2 separate regions of the Homo sapiens genome follow, and region 1 is linked to region 2. Evidence: fine-mapped expression QTL. Tissue or cell type: nucleus accumbens. Region 2 holds a variant in brackets; the other region holds the start of a gene. All regions are shown on one strand. Distances are from middle to middle.

Region 1 (5,356 bases), 27 kb after region 2:
CCGTGCTCGTGGGCGCTCACCCAGGGAAGACATACTGGCTTTTACGGGAACTCTGTGCTGAATTCTCTGAGGAACTGCTGTTTTCCTTAGCAGCTGTACCATTTTACACTCCCTCCAGCAATGCACAAGTGAGCCAGTTTCCGCTCATCCTCATCAACACTTGTGATTTTTTTTAAGTAGTAGCCATCCTAGTGGGAGGAGGTTAGGGTCTCTCTGGTGCTGAGGGGACAGCAGGGTGGGCGGGGTGGGTGCTGGGAGCCCGGCTGGTGCTGGTGCAATCCCCTGGAGTCGGTGGTAGCTCCGGGCAGACAGAGGCAGTGGGTTGGGGGTGGATCAAAGAGATTTTGAAGGTACAAAAGGGGTGGAGTGCAAGAGATAAGAGTCAGAAATGACCTGAGTTGTGGCTGAACAGCTGGAGGATGGTGGAGGGGACTGGAGCAGGAGGGAGGGGGCAGCCCTGTCCACTCTCCAGAGCCCTTCCGGCCCCACCCCATCAGTAGGGAGCCCCCTTTCCTGCTGTTCTTCCCACTGTGGTTTGCTCACCCCGAGGCCCTCACCCCAGTGCCCCATCCCCAAGCAACTGGCCCCAGAGTGGCTACTGAGGAGGCTACCCCAGCCTGCTGCCCCTGGGGGCACCCCCGTGGTGTCCCCACCCTCAGGACCAACACGGGTGTGGTACAGGTGCTGGGAGGGGCTCACCGATCCGGGGCTTGGCAGGACTCCCAGCTCTGCAGGCGGCCGCTTGCTGTCCACCTGGCTGGAAGGCATGGAGGATGGAGAAGCATATCAGCATCAGCATCTGCCCTCGACAACTACACCCACCCCGCCCCACCCTGAAGCCGTCCTCGCCTCCAACCCGTCCCCGCCCTGCCCCAGAACACTCAGGACCACAGAAGAATGTTCGGCGGGTGGGTAGGGGGTGGAGGGGGAAGCCCCTCTGCTGTGTGGGGGCACAGGATGCGCAGGCGCGGGGAGCGGCAGGCAGGGCCAGAGGGCACCACCAGCCCTGGGCCTCCAGCCGGCTCCCCTCCTCCTTGGGCCAGGCCCATGGCAAGGGTCAGGTTGGCGGGAAGCATGGCCAGGACCAGGGGTGCCTGCCTTGCTGGCCTCCAGGGGCAGAGGGGAGCCGGACTGCTCCCAAAGGGGCCCTGAGGACAGAGTTGGCCATGGCGACCGAGAGTGTCTGGATGCTTGAGGTGAGAGGCCCTGTGCCCTCCCTGGAGGCTCATCTCAGCTGTGCTTGGGGCGGCAGGAAGGGGTCCCGTGTCCACCCGCAGGCTGCTGGGGCAGACGTGTGGCCCAGGAGAACCAGGAAGAGGGCCCTCCACGGCCAGGGCCTCCCGCATGGCCTTGAAGGCCCGGGACCCAGCCTCTCCCCACAGGCTCACAGCGCATCCATGGCCTCCTAGTGACAAGGTGGAGCCCTACAGATGGCCCTGGGTGCTGCTGTGGCCCTGCACTGACTGGGACTGACACCACAGGGAGGGCCCCGCCCTGGTCTTGCCTTTGCCTGGCCAGGCCCCCCTTACCCTCCTGGAGCTCCTGTCTGAACATCAGTGGGTTCTGCTCGGTTCTCCACAGCCAGGCCAGGCCAGGAGAGCGGTGATCTGACTGTGTGTGTTGAGGACTGGGTGGCGAGGGCTTGGGGGTTGCCGGGGGATGCAGGAGAAACACGGTGATGCCCATCCACCCCCAGAGGCTCTGGGCCCAGGGTGGGGGCATAGACCCAGGCAGGGGAGGACCTCTCAAGTCGCACCACAGTCTCCTGGGTGCTGTTACCTCCGAGGCGTGGGCTGTGCTCCCGTAAGAGCCCCTCTTCTCTGCCTCAGGGGGGCTCACATCGATCAGGACGGTGCTGTCCTCTTCCTGGGCCCGTCGCCGCAGCATCCTGCTCCTGCACCCAGCAAGGCCGGGTGGGGATGGGGGTCAGAGAGGGGATGGGTGAGACCCGTTCCTGGGGCCACCACACTGCCTGCAGTGAGCTCACTTTACAGACTCGACTCGGAGTAGAATGGGGCTGGGCTGGCTCGGCAGACTCTCCTGGCCATGAGCACATGGAGAACCCCCTAGCCAGCCACGAGCTCCAGGAAGAAACCAGTGCCGGGGCGGGAGCGTCTGGCAGGCCTGGCACAGCAGGCGTCTGTCTGTCCATCCAGTGAGTGCCCGTGTCCCCCAGCCCTGAATGCCGTCCACTCTGCCTGGGTACTCAGTGGAGCCTGAGAAGGCCCAGAAAGGTGGGCCTGGAGTACAGACACCTCTCCCTCTCTTATCCGTAGGGTGGAGCCATGTGAGCCAGGGACAGGAAACCCCTCAAGTCGCCTGCCTTCGCTCATGGCCTGAGGACCCAGTGCCAGGACCCATAGGCCCTGAGCTCCCCAGCAAGGCGGGCCTGATGGAGCCCGGCCTCACAACTCTTGGGGGTCCCAGCTTCCTCCCGCACCTTCGCCCCGGGGGTCTCTCTCTGTGGGAGGACAGGTGCCGTGGCTCCTAGTCTTGGGCTGGCAAAACGGGGCCAGGAGCACGACATCTGTGGCCCTGGAAGGAGAGGGTTCGAGCTGGGGCTGGCATTTGGAGCTGCGACGATGACCGGAGGGTGTGACCATGGAGGCGCCGCAGGAGGTCGGAGGGGCAGCCTTCTAGTTCTACCCTTCACTTCACATTAGCGGAGGCCCAGAGGGACAGAGACTGAGCCTGGGCCGCCTGCACCTGCCTAACCCTGAAGCCCGAGCCAGGTCTCAGTGTTAGGACTCGGCCCCGGCCCCAGGCTGGGAGCCTCACTACGGACTGTGGGGTGTTCCTGGAGGAAAGTCCCCGAGGAGTTTCGGCCACCCAGCAGCCCCTCATGCCCCCATCCTTCTGTGGTGGGCAGGCGGGCCCCTCCTCAGAGCTCTCTGCAGAAAGAATGGGGATGCCCCCCACCCCAACGAAGGGACCTGCTCCATGGGGGAGCCCCTGGGCAGGCAGGAAGCCAACCCCAGCTGGGTGTACCCCGTCCAGAGCCGCACTGAGTGTGTGTCCCTCCTCGTGCCCCAAGGGGCTTTGGGGACCAGGGCGGGCCCTGGCACTGCCTCCCCACAGGCCAGGGTGTGTGAAAGTCCCGGTGGGCTGGGGTGCCGCCCTGCCTCCCTAGAGTCCAACGCTCCACCTTCTCCCTGTGGCCCACACGTCTAGGCTGGGTCCCCACCTGGCACAGTGGCTTCCGGAAGAGGTCTCGGAGGTCATGGCCCACCTCTCAGCGTGAGCCTGGTCTCGGCAGTAGAGTCCCGTCCTCACTGCGGGACAGAGGGTGGGGAGGGGTGGCCCTTGGAGCCCCGCCCAGGCAGTGGCAGCCATTCGCATGCCCTCACCTTGCCTGCAAGTGGGCCAGGAAGCAGGCAGGGGAGGTGCCCAGCACAGCTGGCCAGGGCAAGGCTTCCCGGCTCCTGGAGCAGGATCTATCTTTGTTTAAATAGGGGGTGTGGGGCTCAGAGCTGCAGACAGAGGCAGCCCACTTGGCTGGGCTTTCACACACCCGCATGCAAATGCTGCCGTCCTCCTGGGAACCTTATTTGCTTAGAGATTTCAGGGCTGGCATCAGCTGTCATAGTTGCTGCCTTGGAGGGTCTCGAGGAGGTGGGATTCCACAGGAACAGCCACAAGTGCCACCTCTGCTGGAAGCCTTGCCAGGCAGACCTCGTAAGCTCTGTTTATGTGGGGGGAAACTGAGGCTCCTTGAGGTTACGTAGCATGTGCTGAGTGGTGGGCCAGGGTTTCACCCGGGGGCTGGGGAGATTGGGAGACCCAGATCACACTGCTGGCTCTGCTAATGCCTGAGGGGTGACCTCAGGCACATCCCATGCTCAGGGCCCCATCTGCAAAAGGACAGGAGGGGTCCTAGCCTTCCTCCCATCCTTTCCGCCCTCCTCCTCGTCCTCATTCTCCTCCTAGCCCTCCTCTTTCTCCTCCTAGCCCTCCTCCCCCTCCTCCTTTCTCCCCCTCCTCCTATCCTTTCTCCCCACCTTCCCTCTCCTCCTTCTCCTCCTATTGTTTCTCCCCCCTACTCCTCCCTCTCCTTCTCCTCCTATCCGTTCTCCCCTCTCCCTCTCCTCCTATCATTTCTCCCCCCAACTCCTCCTCCTCCTCCTCTTTCTCCCCACTCCCCCTCCTCCTATCGTTTCTCCCCCTCCCCCCCACTTCTCCCTCTCCTCTTCCTTCTCCTCCTTTCTCCCCACTCCCCTCCTCCTGTTTCTCCCCCTCCCCCCACTTCTCCCTCTCCTCCTCCTTCTCCTCCTATCCTTTCTCCCCGCCCCTCCTCTTCCCCTCTCCCTCCCCCTCCCCCTTTCCTCCTTGGTGCCTGGCAGTGTCTGAGAACCTACCACCCGTGCTCCTCGCCCTCCATGCACAACTGCACTGGGGAGCCCCAAGCTCAGCTTGCTGTTCCAGGTGCCCCCTTCTGCCTGTTGAAATCCCTCCAGGCGGACCCTCATCCTGGCTGCAGCTTTCCCTTATACCTATGCCCCTCTGTGCTTGGCACCTCCCAAGGGGCCCTGTTCTTGGACCTGTGTTGTGCCTCGGAACAGCGGGAAGGCCCTGCAGGCCGGGTTCCCTGTCAGCACCAGCAGAGCCTGGGCGGCAGGACCTTGGGGCCCTGGGCCTCAGGGCATCTGCATGAGAGGTCTCTGCTTGGCCAAGCTCAGCCTGCAGGCGCCTGAGGTGGATCCCTGGACGAGGGCTGGACTGGGGAAGTGCTCCAGAAACCAGGAAAGGAGTCGGGAGGCAGGAGGGGAGGGAGGATGAGCGGGGCACCATCTCCCCAAGACCTGTGGAGGGTGGCCTCAGCCTGCCATGGGCACTCTGCAGGGGAGGCAAGACGAAGCGTTTCCTCACCTGGATGCAACTGTAGGCTCTTACTCTGCTCAGTCATTGGCCAAGGACCCTCCCAGGAAGACATGCCACCTCCCAGGAGCTCCTGGCTCTCTGCTCTTGGTGACAAAGTGGCTCTGGTGGCCTCAGGGCTGTCTACTCAAGAGCTTCAGGGCCGGCTGCTGGAGGTGACCACACCCCAGTGGGAGCCCTTTCAGCGACAGTGCACGCACAACACCTAAAGGGGGTTCGGCCCTGAGGAGTGTCTTTCCATTTTTACTTCATACAACTCTGTTTGGGTGGGTGGTTTTTTCAAGTTGTGTTACTTCTGAGGGAAAGGAAGGAAGGGAGGGAGGGAGAAAAGCCGCAACCAGCACAGGGGGCCCGCCAGGTTCCAGGCCTTGGGAAGAGCCCAGGCCCAGAATCTGCTGCACCATCTTTCTTTGGCTGTAACATTTTTTTTTTTGAGACGGAGTCTCGCTCTGTCGCCCAGGCTGGAGTGCAATGGCGCCAT
Region 2 (5,356 bases):
CGATATGAAAAGACTGATAACCCTATGGTTTCGTAATTTTACTGCTGAGATTTGCTCCAACATTAGGAGACTATGATGCTTTTCAAGTTTATTGAAACACATGCAAAACTTCATTGTAACCAGATCACAAAGGAAGTCTCCACAACTGCGGGTGAAGTACATCTACCTGCTCTGCAGGTTCTATTATGGTATGAGGCCACCACTTCTCCTGTTGTCCTTCCCAGTTTCTCCCCAACCTCCCCTTTTCCCTAGTTTATAAGACAGGAGAAAAGGAAGAAAGCAAAAAGCTGGAAAGAAACAGAAGATAAATAGCTAGATGACCTTGGCGCCACCACCTGGCCCTGGCGGTTAAAATAACAATAATATTAACCCCTGACCAAAACTACTGGTGTTATGTGTGAATTCCAGACGCTGTATGAGAAAGCACCGTAAAACTTTTTGTACCGTTAGCTGATGTATGTAGCCCACAGTCACGTTCCTCACGCTTACTTGATCTATTATGACTCTTTCACGTAGACCCTTAGAGTTGTAAGCCCTTCAAAGGGCTAAGAATTTCTTTTTCGGCGAGCTCCGCTCTGAAGACACGAGTCTGCCGACGCCCCCGGCCGAATAAAAAAACCTCTTCCTTCTTTAATCCGGTGTCTGAGGAGTTCTGTCTGCGACTCGTCCTGCTACACTATGACCAACTAGCAATTCACCTAGAATCCACGATTTGCCCTCCAGCCCCGCAAAGCTCCGTCCCTTACCGCGGGGAACCTCCCCCCAGCCCCTGCCCACGGCGCCCCCAGCTCCCCCCCTCCCCCGGCCTTGCCCGGCGGCGCCCGCCCCTCCCGGCTCCCCACCGCCGCACCCCCACCCCACCCGAGCCCCGCTCCGCCTCGTCCTCGTGCGCCCGCGGCCCCCTCCACCTGGCGCGGGGCTCACCTGCACGTGCGGTTGTGCGCGGCGGCGAAGGAGGACGGGGCTCGCGCCAGCGTGAAGTTGAGGAAGCCGCGCAGGTCGTGGGCGCGGGTCCACCGGTAGTAGGCGCGCGGCAGGAAGTCGGACGAGAAGGCCAGGAGGAAGGCCTGGGCGCCGGAGGGGTCAGCGCGAGGCGGCCCCCGCTCCGCCCCTGCGCGCCCCCGCTCCGCCCCTGCGCGCCCCCGCTGCCCCCCCGCCCCGCCCCTGCGCGCCCCCGCTCCGCCCCTGCGCGCCCCCGCTGCCCCCCCCGCCCCGCCCCTGCGCGCCCCCGCTGCCCCCCGCCCCTGCCCGCCCCCGCCGCCCCCCCGCCCCGCCCCTACGAGCCCCCGATGCCCCCAGCCCCGCCCCTGCGCGCCCCCGCTGCCCCCGGCCCGCCCCTGCGCGCCCCCGCTGCCCCCCCCGCCCCCGCCCCTGCGCGCCCCCGCCCCGCCCCGCGCTCCCGCCCGGGCCTCACGTTGCTGATGACCGCCAGGTGCGTGAGGCCCGCCAGGATGTGGAACCAGATGCCGATGTCCTGGGCGCGCTCGGCCACCGGGCGCCGGTACTCGCAGACGAACTTGCGCGCGTCCAAGCGGATCTCCACCCAGTTGTTGAGCAGGGCGAAGAGCGGCGCGAGCGGACAGGCGGCCACGAAGATGGTGACGAAGCCGAACTGCAGCACTGCGGGGAGGGGGTCACGGCCGGGCTCTCCGCCACCGTCCGCCCTCAGCCCTCGGAACGCGCCCCCCGCGGAGGACCGGCCAGTCCACGTGGTGCCGCCACCCCATCGCGGCTCATTCCGCCCCCACCTCCTGGTCTCCCTCGTCCTGGACCGCGCAGCGCCAGGGCCGCCTCTCCTGACCGGCCTCAGGCCGGCTGTCCTGCCCTGCGCTCCGTGCTTCTGGCTGGTCACGGGCCTTCTCCGGCTCGGTGAGCTCAGGAACTAACTCAGGGCAGGCGTTGGGGCAGAAACCTGCTCCTGATTTTACAACCAGCTTCTCCAGTCACCCCACAGGGGAGCTGTTAGGAGAGGGCTCTTTGGAAGGGGCTTCTGGGTCTTCGCCGAGAATTACTAGTGAGATCATTGGGGTCCAGGGTTCAGTGGAGGAGGGTCAGGGCGTCCACTCCTCGCCCTGGGAACTGGCCTGCTCCCTTTCCACAGATGCCGCGGCTACGCTGGGGAGCTCCGGGGCCTGCCGGCTCACATGCCCGCTTGCTAGGTTAAGAGCTGCCTGCCGGGCACAGTTTCTCACGCCTGTAATCCCCAGCACTTTGGGAGGCTGAGGCAGGTGGATCACCTGAGGTCAGGAGTTCGAGACCAGCCTGGCCAACACGGTGAAACTCCGCCTCTACTAAAAATACAAAATTAGCCGGGCGTGGTGGTGGGCGCCTGTAATCCCAGCTACTCGGGAGGCTGAGGCAGGAGAATTGCTTGAACCTGGGAGGTGGAGGTTGGAGTGAGCCGAGATGGCGCCACTGCACTCCAGCCTGGGCGACAGAGGGAGACTCCGTCTCAAAAAACAAAACAAAAACAAACAAACAAACTGCCTGATGATTCCTTCTCCCTTTTGTCAGCTCAGAGTCAGACCCTGCACTGCAGGGACGGCACAGGTGATACAGACCCACCCTCCAGAGTGCACCACCCGTGCAGGCAGTGAGCCCCTGGCACTGGCCACCACCTGGTAAGGTGACAGTGGTAGGTCTGCAAATAGCGTGGGCATTGAGATTTCTGGGAACATTGGCTCTCCAGGCCGCTGCCTCCCACTGTGGCTTCACCCTTGGAGGACTTCTGTCAGCCCCCAGGGCCTGCTCTCCTAATTCTTCCCTTGCTCTGGCCCATGCTTTCTAGGTCCAGGGACCCCAGGGGAGCTCTGCAACGGCC[G/C]CGGGGGCCTCCTCCCCGTGCCGGTGCCCCTCTGTCCTCAGCCAACCCTCTTGGGCACTCTCAGGGGAAAAGAATTCCTTTCTGGATTCTCCACAGGCCCGACCCTCTGTTCCCACCCCACCCCCACAGCACATTTCAGGGCAGATGCAGACACAGGAATGTCAGGCTGGGAGGCCCTTGAGCAGAGTGGCCACCCATCCCTGCCCACGGCGCCAGCCATTGCCGCAGCTGCTAACGGGCTCCTACCCATTTCCAGGTACTCGTCAAACAGACCCTCACAGGGCACAAGCTCATAGTCGTCCTCCCAGGGCCCCTGGCTAGCCCCTGCAGAAGCTCCCGCCTTCCTCTTCTTGGAGCGAAGCCGGAACTTCTGCCACCAGCCCTTTAGCTTCCTGGGGACGGGAATACAGGAAAATGGCCTTTGATCCAACATGGGTCTCAGTGGCTGCTATAGTCCTTGGGGGAGATGTGGCCGGGACAAGCCTGTTGCTTTGCAATTGAAGGGCAGCAGGGAGGGATGGGGTCTGGGGCTGAGGGGTGGACGCAGTGAGAGCCAACAGCTTTGCAGATCGGACTCAGTGAAAGCGTCTGTGTCTGTTGGTCAGATGTGGGAGGGCAGTCCACCCGCCCAGCCCCCCGCATTGTTCCTTAAGGCTTTAGGGGTAATGGGCTCCTCCCGGAATTGCAAAGCAGTGCCAAGAGCTCTGCCAAGGTTGGGAGGGAGTGGACGAGGACGACTGTGGTGTCCCAGGGAAAGCAGATGTGGAGGCCCACGTGTTGGGTTCGTCCTACACAGGGGCATGTGTGCATGTTGCCTTATCACACTGTCACTCATCCGTGCCCTGCTCCTGCCAGGCACAGAGCTCCACCCTGCACCTTATGGTCTTGTGGTTTCACAGCACCAATAGTTCCAAGAGGCAGGGCCATCTCTCGGGATGTGGCATGGCCACCATCTCCCAACTGCTATTCCTGGTGGCCCAGAAATGTCAGTGCTGATTTGGGAGCTGCCTTCTGGGGGCAGATCAGGTGTTCAGGGGGCGCTGGGAGGGCGTTCAGGTCAGTCTGGCCTTGAGCGGGAGGCGAGGCCCTGGGCAGCCTCTTTGAAGGACTCTGGCTATGGGAGCCTTGTGGTCAGGGTGTCCCTGGCAGGGGCATCTGAGGCAGACGTGTGTCTGAGGATCAACCCTGGGACCTCCTTTTCCTCCTCCCTCTTGTGCTGCGTTGGGGCCTGGGGATGCCAAGGAATACTCTGGCCCAGCCGCAGCATCTCTGAACGGACAGAGCCATCACCCCAGCCTTGGGTCCAGGAGCCCAGACCCCCTCCCCAGCCAAAGCTGGTCCCAGGGGTAGCGTCTCCCACAACTACAACCCAGAAGACCTCAGCCAGCCACAGGGCAGCTGCAGGGCGGGCAGCCCAGAGCCCGGGGCAGACGGCCGGGCACACTCCCCCTCCCCCTCCCCAGGCAAGGTGCCTTCCCTTCACCTCTTCTCCCAGCTAGGGCCGGGCTGGAGGCTGCTACTGCCAGGTGCTCTGGGGTCCCTCGGTCCTTGGATGCCACCCAGGGAGGAGTGGGGGACTCACGGGATGAGGACCTCCTGCATGTTGTTGATGACCTGCTTGCCCACCATGATGACCAGGAGCTCCTGTGCCAGCTCGATCAGGCAGCCTCCAGCCGCGCACTACGGCAGCAGGGCTCAGGTTAGCTGGGAGAGGGGGACCAGCCACTCACCCACGCATCCCTTCTTGTCTCAAAGCTGGCCCTCATCCCGGCCCCCACCTCCCTCCTGACATGCCTTGGGCACCTGGAGGGTTGCAGAGATGCTCCCACCATAACACTCCCTCCCGACCTCACAGGAGCCCCCAGGTCCAGCTGGAAGACTGCATTGGAAAGCTGCAGGGGGCACTGCTATATGTACCTAATGGCACCCCAGTTTTCCTTTGGAGACCCACAAGGGGTTACATGGGGCTGACTGTAGCCTCTGGCTTCAAGACAGACCCACGAGGCAGGCCCCACCAATCGGTGACCCAGTTCGAGCCAGTGGGAGGTGGAGTTCCTGGGAACACGTGCCTTGCAAGGGGTGCTAAGTCCGAGAGTGTCGGCCGCACTGCAGGGCACCTTCCCTCCAGATGGGGATAATCTTTCTGAGAACACAGGCAATGCTGGGAATAGCAGTGCAGCATTTTTAACACCTGGATCATTCATACCTAAGCCCGCGTAGCCCTGAGCGTTTTCAGTACAGGAGCCAAGAAAACTCCCTGCAGCCTCCACCTCCTGGGTTCAAGCAATTCTTCTGCCTCAGCCTCCCGAGTAGCTGAGACTACAGGTGCGTGCCATCACGCCTGGCCAATTTTTGCATTTTTAGTAGAGACGGGATTTCACCATATTGGCCAGGCTATTCTCGAACTCCTGACCTCATGATCCACCTGCCTTGGCCTCCCAAAGTGCTGGGATTACAGGCATGAGCCACCACGCCTGGCCGAAAACTCCCTTTTTCGTTTAAGCCAGTTTGAGTTGGGAACTTTTCCCACTTAAC

The links. PIP is the estimated chance that this variant, and not a neighbour inherited with it, causes the effect.
Region 1: ANO7 starts here. The variant in region 2 is fine-mapped to the expression of ANO7 in nucleus accumbens (GTEx, PIP 0.94). The same link has a PIP of 0.9 or more in prefrontal cortex.

Annotation. Positions count from the first base shown.
Region 1 is chr2:241,186,595-241,191,950 of GRCh38, reverse strand. ANO7 (anoctamin 7) reads right to left here and starts at 3,274. Exons shown (of 25, transcript NM_001370694.2): 1 at 3,185-3,274; 2 at 1,780-1,894; 3 at 700-757. The coding sequence starts at 1,887. LOC105373971 (a long non-coding RNA gene) reads left to right here and starts at 3,529. Exons shown (of 3, transcript XR_924064.3): 1 at 3,529-3,675. RefSeq lists enhancers at 701-1,201, 1,202-1,702, 2,636-3,319, 3,320-4,004, 5,200-5,356.
Region 2 is chr2:241,213,950-241,219,305 of GRCh38, reverse strand. It overlaps ANO7 (anoctamin 7), which reads right to left. Exons shown (of 25, transcript NM_001370694.2): 18 at 4,404-4,501; 19 at 3,068-3,213; 20 at 1,415-1,620; 21 at 925-1,067. Among named protein-coding and RNA genes, the nearest start is that of ANO7, 28 kb to the right of the region's middle. RefSeq lists enhancers at 270-369, 2,477-3,008 and a silencer at 1,713-1,842. The variant G/C (reference allele first, on the strand shown) is at 2,822.